Linked DNA regions of Homo sapiens. The protein of the gene in region 3 purifies or fractionates together with the protein of the main gene of each other region. This does not show direct contact. Each region holds a gene or a part of one and is shown on either strand. Other genes may lie near its edges. The genes, in order: UGT1A7, SGK3 and CYP19A1.

Region 1 (2,610 bases), on a different chromosome or scaffold from region 3:
AAACATTAAACTATCTGGGTGCTAGATTTAGCATGAGGCAGGGTCTGTGCAGCCACTTAGTGCAAAATGGATTTCTGTTTATTCTGGACAGTGTTCATTGCCCAATCAGAACATCTCAATCCAAAACGGGTTAGGTGCTTCAACCCTTGGTGCTACAGGAATGAAGAGGAGATTGAAGAGGAGAGGGAAAAGGAGGAGGAAGTAGAAAAGAAAAGGGAGAAGAAAGAAAAAAAAAGGCACTCCTATTCAGGACTAATTATGATCGCTGTTGACTGATACAGTTTGGATATTTGTCCACACTCAGATCTCATGTTGAATTGTAATCCCCAGTGCTGGAGATGGGGCCTGGTGGGAGGTGTTTGGATCATGGGGTCGGATCCCTTGTGCTTTAGTGCTGTCTTCCTGATAGTGAGTTTTCATGAGTTATTGTGAGAGCCGGTCATTAAAAAGTGTGTGGCACCTTCCCCCCCAACTCTCTCTCGCTCCTGCTTTTGCCATGTGACATGCAAGCTCCCGCATTGCCTTCTGCCATGAGTAAAAGCTCCCTGAGGTTCCCCCGGCAGCCAAGTGATGTCAGCACTAAGCTTCCTGTACAGCCTGCAGAAACACGAGCCAATGAAACCTCTTTTCTTTATAAATTACCCAGTCTTGGGTATTTCTTTACAGCAATGCAAGAACAGCCTAATACACTGTCTTTAAACATATCTATAATGTTATTTGGAAACATTATTATAATGTAATATTAGTACTTGGCCATGAATCATGTTAAATATCATCTTCCTTTTACATAAACCTTAAGATGAATTTTCTTGGAACCTTCTTTTTTTTTTTTTTAAGTAAGACGGAGTCTCACTCTGTCGCCCAGGCTGGAGTGGAGTGGCACAATCTCAGCTCACTGCAACCTCCGCCTCTCAGGTTCAAGTGATTTTCCTGCCTCAGCCTCCCAAATAGCTGGGATTACAGGCATACACCACCATGCCTGGGTAATTTTTTTATATTTTTTTGGTAGAGATAAGGTTTCTTCATGTTGGTCAGGTTGGTTTCGAACTCCTAACCTCAAGTGATCCACCTGCCTCGGCCTCCCAAAGTGTTGGGACTACAGGCATGAGCCACCGTACCTGGCCAGAACTTTCATTCATTCATTCAATAGTAATTGAGCACCTATTATGGCCTGGTTGTCAGCATAAACTGATGTTTGAAAATTTTCCACTTCTTTTTATTTTGTGTAGGCACTATCCCCAGCTCAGAGTGTTGGAATCATGGAGATTCACAATCAGACAGGGATGGCTCAAAAATGAATAGATGAAAGTTAGTTAATAAGTTGAGCTCATTGATTTGTGTTTTTTTAAAAAATAATGTATTAGAGGACTTTCACCAAGTTGTTCTTAGGTTACAAGTAGTTATCTATACCACTGAAGAAAGAATCAAAATTATATCCATAATGTGAGCCTCAAGAAGGAGCTTCAACAGTGCAGGGAAAGAAGTCAGGTTTTAATGGTATTGATATGTGAGCAGGACATCCTGACATTGAGGTGGCCAGAAGAAGCCGCTGGAAGGAAGGAATGGGACCACACCACCCAACGCTCTGGGCACATGATGCTCAGGTTATGTGGACTTTTCATTTTTTTTTTTTTTTTTGAGACAGGGTCTCACTCTGTTGCCCAGGTTGCTGGAGTGCAGTGGCATGATCACGGCTCATAGCAGCCTCCAACTTCTGGGCTCAAGCAATCCTCCCGCCTTAGCCTCCAGAGTGGCTGGGACTACAGGCGTGTGCCATGGTGCCTAGCCAACATTGATCTTTTATCCAGTGCCACCACACACACATTAGCACCTCAAAGGTGGGAAGTCAGTCATCAGTCCTCCCCTGTTGTCCCTTGCTCAAGCTGGTGTGTCCCCGTGTTCCGTCTCCTCTCATCTGAACATGCTCCAGCTCTTCACATCTGTCTTCCTGACTGCTGCTTCTTTCTAAAGGAGGTAACCATGGGAGAAAGCAATGGACACTCTCATAAACACACGCACACACACACACACGCATATGAATGCACACGTGTGCACCCACACATGAGCACAGCCACATGCACAAACGCACACGCACATATGCACACAGTATCTATTGTCGGATGAAATCTACCACTGGCCACCACTTCTTCCCATAAGGTTCTAATAAGCCTATTACCAGTGAGCTTGACAGTAATATACTAACTTTAATCCAGAAATCATTTGCCCTTTGAATCGTTTTCAGGGCCACATTTGAGCAAATTTTCCTTTGCTCTTATTCTAAGACTTTGTCTGTGATATCTTATAGCTCCTTCATTCATAAACTCCATGGACAAAATTTCTCACAGGTTCCAGTGCTGCAAAAAGCTGTACTTCTAAGCATTTGAGTTGTTTTTCTCTTAAAGATACTATGCTTCTTATAATGGAGTATTTCTTTCTGTGCAGGAAACTTATGGATCAGATGTCTATTATGGCAACTTTTTATGTAAATTGGAGTTTTAAATCTAATGGGGGAAATAAAATTCTAAATAAATTATATGATAAATTATATAGAAACTAAAGAATCCTTTTATAAAGTGAATAATAACCTCTAAATTATCTTATTTATAAATC
Region 2 (3,660 bases), on a different chromosome or scaffold from region 3:
GCGGCATAAGTTGAGGAAAAGTAGTATCCAGCAATTCTACTGGCTATTTTGTGGTAGATTGAGAAATGAAAGAGCTTGGGAAAGGGAGACTGAACAAAGAAAACTTCCAACAAGTTTGGCTAAGAAGGGAAGGAGATAGAGTAGTACCTCTCAGGAGAGTAAGACTGAGGGTTTTTTTGGCTTAAGAAGCAACAGATTTGATAACATTTAATTACTGACTGGAAGGAACCAGAAAAAAAGGGGAGCAGTTATTTGTGCAAAACAAACAAACATGGACAGGGTTCCTTACAAATGGACAGGATACAGTGCACAGGTGGAAACAGACCTTTTCCACTACAATACGAAGAAGAAAATGACAGGATCCTGCAAGTGTATATAGGTCTGTGGATTTGATAGCAGGAAGCTAAGTTAGCTCCACTCTAATGGTTCTATTTTCCTTACAAAATAGAAGGCAAGATCATCTGTTAAAAGTGAAGAAGAAGAAAAGGAATCTGGGAAGTCTGGAGAGAAGGTGTGAAATAGTTAATACAGAGAGGAAGAGAGTAAGCTACACAGAGAAACAAAGAGTATTACCAGACAGTGGGGAAGCACAGACGAGGTTCACAGTGCTTCCAATATGCCCAGTTTGTTACCTTCTTTAGCACTGTTCAGCAGCCCATGAGATGATAGTTGGATTCATCTAGAGCTGCAATCTCTGTCAATGAATTCAATAAATGGACCAAGGGACAAGGAGGTGTGAAATATTAGCAAGACTGTCTGGAACAACGGAAAGGAAGTTGTTGGCAGAGCTACCAGCTGAACTGGGGAGCAGGGGTAAAGCAGTAGCAGCAAAGTCTTTTATTCACAGCTCAAGTTCAAAATTGATAAGCAGCCTCCAAGAATATCTGAGAAAGCAGTTCAAAAGTTCATATTCCTCAATATTTTTGTGCATTTACTGACACACTAACATAATGCCGGTAACTACACTACAAATTTAATTACCCTTATTTGAAACAAACATGCAGATTCCCTAATTATCTCAAGGAGGTCTCACCAAATTCTTAAAAAAAAAAAAAAAAAAAAAAGTGACTTAGTGTTCAAGGCAAAAGACATTACCTCATGCAGACAGGAGGCACTTAACAAATTCCTGCTAAAGGAAATGATTTAGACTTTAGATAGTCCCAAACCCTCAACAAAAAGCTTACTAGTTGGTTAGTCTCTGTGTTATTAGTTCATGAAAATGTTAGTATTATTTAGCAATAAAAACAGCAAAAGAAAGTTTAGGTAGTGAAAATATGCCACACAACACTTTTTAAAAAGAAGGGGAGGGGAATTTGTAATAAATGAAAATCAAGTAAATAATAGGGTGCGAAAGTGTATGTGGTGGATAGGGCAAAAGTGTATGCAACAGAAAGTGCTTTAAATACTACATAGTTTTATATAAATACAGGTGAAAACTGTGGAGACAAGTATGCTTTTTTTCCATGTTGCTATTCTCCGCATATTGTATTCATTCCATTAAATACCATATAAAATAAAGCTTTATTTCCAAATTTTAAATAAGCTTAAATAAAGCTGGAGCTAGAAAAGCTGTTACATACAAAGTCTTCCTTGGCACCAAGTCGATTTTGCCTGTCTTTTTCTAGGAGTTCTTCCAGAATGGACCAGGCTGTAAGACTCACTCCTGGCCTCAAACTTAGGGGTTTGTGAAGGATATTGTCATACATTTCAGCAACATCTCGGCAATAAAAAGGAGGCTGGAAAAAAAAAAAAGCAAAATAAACTTAGTGGTAAACAAATTATGCGCAAATGGGGTTAAAATGGCTTTAATCTTGAGGGAGCAGTCAGTTGAAAAAATGTATGGACCTCTTGGGACGTGTAGACACCTGCAGTGTGGCTTCCTGAAGCAAAGAGATTCTAAAACCGAACACATCACAGAGCTTAATAAGTGTTCACTGAATGAATTAGGGCCAGTTTGTTCAATAGCACCTTGTAGACAGCTGTTAAATTATATACAACTTGTAGTAGTACCTGTTTTAGAGAAAACCACCAACCTTATCATAGGCATAATGACAGAATCATTGGAAATAGAAGTTCAAGACAGATCAAACATTAATTTCAGACTTGGGAATAAACTCACTGAAACAAAGGGATTTCTAGTAGAGATGGAGGCCTGAAGATAATGTTTCTTAGGTACTTATGACAGAGATAATATTATGACTGTACTTTGCAGAATTAAAAATGCCACCGCAACAGCCAAAAGACTTGGGGTATAGCTTCAACACAAGCATTAGCTAGTTAATCATCTAATTATAAAGGTTTAAAGTAAAAATAAAGACCAGGCGTGGTGGCTCACGCCTGTAATCCCAGCACTTTGGGGGGCTGAGGTGGGCAGATTGCTTGAGGCCAGGAGTTCAAGACCAGCCTGGGCAACATGGTGAAACCGTCTCTACTGAAAAAATAAAAAACCAGCTGGGCATGGTGGTGTACGCCAGTAGTCTCATCTACTCAGGAGACTGAGGCATGAGAATCGGTTAAACCTGGGAGGCGGAGGATGCAGTGAGCTGAGATTGCGCCACTGCACTCCAGCCTGGGCAACAGAGTGAGACCCCATCTCAAATAAATAAAGTAACAACTTTTGAGAAAAAAAATGAGCTGTACAGGTTTCTGTACTCTGGGAATAAGAGGAAAGAAGATTATCATGCTACTCAGGTTCTATCTGCAAGGTTGTAATATGTAACCTACAAAACTACTTCCTTTTGAATTAATGTGTCCAGAGCACCAGAAACATTTTTCCAAAGAGGGAATTACCATGTAAAATGTTACTGTTCTTTTTTAAAAAACAAAAACAAAAACAAAAAAAAACCCAATTTATTCACCAGAGGACTGGTCTCTAATATTTTACCCTTGTGGGTTTGTTTTTACCTTTTAAATATTAGTTACCAGTATTTTTATAAAATAAGATGAATCTGACTTAAAACATTAAAATGACATTTTTTTCTTTTCAGTCTCTTTTTGTGAAAATTACAAAAGTAATATATGCTTGTTGTAACAAATCCAAACAATACAGAAGTTTACAAAATAAAAAGTGACGCCAGGCACAGTGGCTCACACTGGAAATCCCAGCACTTCGGGAGGCTGAGGTGGGCAGATCACTAGAGCTCAGGAGTTTGAGACCAGCCTAGGCAACATGGCGACACCCTGTCTCTACTATAAATAAATAAATAAATAAATAAATAAATAAATAAATAAATAAGCAAGCTAGGTGGGGTGGTGCATGCCTGTAGTCCAAGCTACTCAGCAGGCTGAGGTGGGAGAAGCATCAGAGCCTGGGAAGTCAAGGTTGCAGTGAGTCGTGATCATTCTACTACACTCCAGCCTGAGCAACACAGTGAGACTCTGTCTCAAAAAAAGTAAAAATAAAAATTAAAGTATACATAATTTTTAAAGTTAAGGGAGTTTTATAGGCTTGCCACTTTTCCTTTCCTTTGTGTAGGAAAGAAAAAGCTTATCTTTTAAAATATGACTTTTTTTGTTTTTTGTTTTTTTTTGAGACGGAGTCTCGCTTTGTTGCCTATGCTGGAGTGCAGTGGCATGATCTCCACTCACTGTAACCTCCGCCTCCCAGGTTCAAGTGATTCTCCTGACTCAGCCTCCCAAGTATCTGGGATTACAGGGGCA
Region 3 (3,660 bases):
CTAAATCATCTGGGCTGTCAGTCAAGCACTCAGCAAACACATTGTTTGGCCGTGTTTAAATCAAACATATGGGTGACATGCTAAATTCTTAACTGAAATTACTCTAAATATATAGCTACATCTCTTCTTTTGCCTATAAAATTGCTTTGCACATCAATAAGAAGAAAAGAATTTGTGGTGATTAAGAAATATAGGCTTCAGGGCTATATTCCGGGCTATCATTTACTAATGTTTGGACCTTGGGCAAGTTACTTAACCTCATTTTCTGTGAATTGTAGGAGATAACAACATTTACCACATGGGGCTGCCATTCAAGTGTTTAGAACAATGGCTACAACAGAGTAAAGGCATAATGAATGTTAGCTCTTCCTCCTTTATTGCAGTAGAATTCAAAATATGATTTCAGACTAGGAATGATAGCTCATGCCTGTAATCCCAGCACTTTGGGAGGCCGAGGCAGGTCAATCGTTTGACTCCGTGAGTTTGAGCCCAGCCTGGTCTCAAATATGGCGAAACCCCATCGCTACAAAAAATACAAAAATTAGCCAGGCATGGTGGTGCACATCTGTAGTCCCAGCTACTCGCGAGGCTGAGGTGGGAGAATCGCCTGAGCCTGGGAGGCGGAGGTTACAGTGAGCCAAGGTCGTGAGCCAAGGTCACTCCTGCCTGGGTGATAGAGTCAGAGCCTGTCTCAATAAATAAATAAATAAATAAATAAATAAAATATTTTAAAAATATGATTTCAAAAAAGGCACATTCATAGACAAAAAAGATTGTAGCTAACTAAGTACCTGCTTACCTTTCATAAAGAAGGGTCGAGTTGTTTTCCAGAGCTCTGGATTGTTGTTAAATATGATGCCTTTCTCATGCATACCGATGCACTGCAGCCCAAGTTTGCTGCCGAATCGAGAGCTGTAATGATTGTGCTTCATTATGTGGAACATACTTGAGGACCTGAAAAGACAGGAAACTTTGGTGTCAATTTTTAAGGGTCAGGAGAACTCCTGGTGGTACATTTTGACTAGGAGGTAGCTCTCTTAGCAAATGCATGTTGCTCCAAATGCAATGTGCATGATTTCTAGTATTCGGGTTGAATAAGCACTTCTGTTAGCATGAGGACATCCTTCTCCAGTTGAATCATTTCTACCTACTGACTCCCTGTTTCAACATCACCAAAGATAGAAAACACACACACACACCCATATACCATTCCTTACTTCTCTTTCTTCTCTAACCTCACCAAAATACTACCCACTACTGGAGTCAGAGCTGCAAGGCTGCTAAGAAGCTGAACCCTCCATACCACCAGAGCCAGAAGAACCTCCAGCCTCCCAGGTATCATCCAGCCTCACTCCACAAAGTGCCACCCACTACAAGAGTGAGCCACAGAATCAGAAGTTTGTGGAATTACTAAAGTCTTGTTTTCCTATTTTGGAACCAGCAGTTTTGCCTAGTACCACCCAACTCCAGTCTCTAATCAGGCCTGCCCCCTCCAGTGGAGTATCAGTCAGGGCTTGAAAAATATCTCCTTGGGCACTTCTTCTAGCCCTGAGCTTGGCCAGCGCCTGGCTGGACTGGCATGCAAAGTTCACTGTGGTAGTAAAGGAAGCTATTTTGGGGCTCTGCCTTCCATCATGACTCATCAAAGTCTCCAGGGTCACAGAGTTCTCCCACGACACAGGATGTGATGAGTCATGAGACAGGGCAATTTGCATGATGCTCAATTATGCAAATTCAAGATGCATTAGATGTCATTGGTATTATCTTGATTTTAGATGTTGTTGTTACTTTCTTGGTGAACTTAATATTTATACAAAATTTCATGTATTAATTGCAACTTTGGTCCTCCCTCTCCTCTGGTCTCCTGAAATTTTGTTTCACAGCTGCAAATTCTCCCACTATGGAGGTTTTCAGAACAAATAACCCTCAAAGATTGCAAGTGGTTACTATAATATCTGCAATTGGTTCTCAGGTTGGAGAGACTTGCTCCTCCATCTCCTAGTTGACACTTGGCTCCTAAAAGGATACTTTTGCCTTAATGAGGTTGTTCAGTTAATGCCTGTTGAAATACATTCCCAGAGGACTCTAGACCAAAAAAGCGCTGCTCTGGTTCAATGTATTAGGTTGTGGGCTAAGTATTAATCCAGCTCTCACATCTGCGATGTGTTCCATAGTCCTATTTAAGCTTTAAAAGTAAGCCCCTGAAATAATGGTAGTGTCAAGAAATTAGAACAGGATTATTATTGTATAATAATATATAATATATAAGGTGTGGTAGTGTGTGCCTGTAGTCCCAACTACTTGGTGGGCTGAGGCAGTAGGATAGCTCGAGCCCTGGAGGTTGAGGCTGCAGTGAGCCATGATCAAGCCATTGCACTCCAACCTAGGTGACAGAGCAAGATCCTATCTCAAAAAAAAAAAAAAAAGCAGAGTTATTGTATAAATAACTTATTAATATTTATTTCAGGAAAAACCACCTATTTTCAAATAAAAACACTATTAAATATTCTCTTGATCTGATTCCAGATAATATTCATCAAATAATCCTAAGTTTTGGACATGTTTGCCTCTCCCTAGCAAAAATAAATAAATAAATAAATAAAAATCCAGATGCTTCCATTTGTATTCTGGGGAATTTGTCTGACGTTTCAAATTTTGTCATATATAGAAAAATTATGCTATAGGAAGGAATGAAATTCTTACTAATTAAAATATTTGAAAACTCTAGCTTTACTTACCTTCCCCTCCATCATTCTATAATTAAAGCAGAAATTAAGTAATTTATATATTCTTTATTCACAAACTAATATTTAAAAATTTTAAGCACTTAAAGGACAAACACTATTTTTCTGCTCTGACCCTGGGGCTTTTGCATACTGCATTAATCATATTGGCCTGTCCATTTCATTTAAGAACTTGCTAATCAGTTTTAAAAAGAGAGTAAGAAACTCCAAACATAAAACAAACCCAACGAAATATTTGCTAGTTATTAGTAATAAAGAGCCAACCTTTAAAATTCTTGTGTCCTTTAGGGGGCACCAACTTCTCAGCTATTTTGAATCCAAAGCTCAGGCTTGTTAGGGACAAAGCTAATCAGGCCGATGTGATAAAGCAAGGGATGTGTGACTGGCCACAGATGAGCAATTTAAAACAAGGTCACTTACTAAAAGTAGGCTGGATTTATCTAACCAGAGTAAATCAGAAAAGTGAAGAGAAGGTCAGTGATGAACTAAGGACCCCAGCCCAGAGCTCCTCCTGGCAGTCAAGACAGGCCTGGCTCTGGCTTGTGGGCCAGCCTGCAATACTGCCAGAGGCAAGTGTTATACTGATTATTTGGGAGAGTGAGGATTTCTTAGCACTGAGGAGAGTCCAGCTGAGTCCCCAGCCTCAGCAGGGACAGTGCACAGCGTTGGGTGTCTGATCACTAGGGTTATTATCCCTCATTAAGCATGATTGAAGATAAAAGACATCTCCAAAGATGGCAAACCTATTGTCTGTTCAAAATGAAAAGTAGTCAGGGAGTAAGCTCTTAGGTGATGAGAAGAAAGCCACCTGAGTTCTGGGATTAAACAATTCACACACTTGTGGGCAGATTCAACAGTGATGAGGAGGCAATTAATGGACTAATTGGTGCCTTCTTTTTTTTTTTTTTTTTTTGAG

Evidence for each region.
Region 1: the proteins of CYP19A1 (region 3) and UGT1A7 purify together in Homo sapiens (affinity purification with mass spectrometry; one large-scale study listed by BioGRID and IntAct). This does not show direct contact.
Region 2: the proteins of CYP19A1 (region 3) and SGK3 purify together in Homo sapiens (affinity purification with mass spectrometry, with the first as the bait; one large-scale study listed by BioGRID). This does not show direct contact.

Annotation. Positions count from the first base shown.
Region 1 is NC_000002.12:233,768,886-233,771,495, reverse strand, and holds part of UGT1A7 (UDP-glucuronosyltransferase 1A7 precursor), read right to left. Parts: intron 1-2,610.
Region 2 is NC_000008.11:66,845,269-66,848,928, reverse strand, and holds part of SGK3 (serine/threonine-protein kinase Sgk3), read right to left. Parts: intron 1,737-3,660; coding exon 1,581-1,736; intron 1-1,580. Other genes in the region: C8orf44-SGK3 (serine/threonine-protein kinase Sgk3), read right to left, coding at 1,581-1,736.
Region 3 is NC_000015.10:51,226,980-51,230,639, forward strand, and holds part of CYP19A1 (aromatase), read right to left. Parts: intron 955-3,660; coding exon 800-954; intron 1-799. UniProt on the Homo sapiens protein: A cytochrome P450 monooxygenase that catalyzes the conversion of C19 androgens, androst-4-ene-3,17-dione (androstenedione) and testosterone to the C18 estrogens, estrone and estradiol, respectively.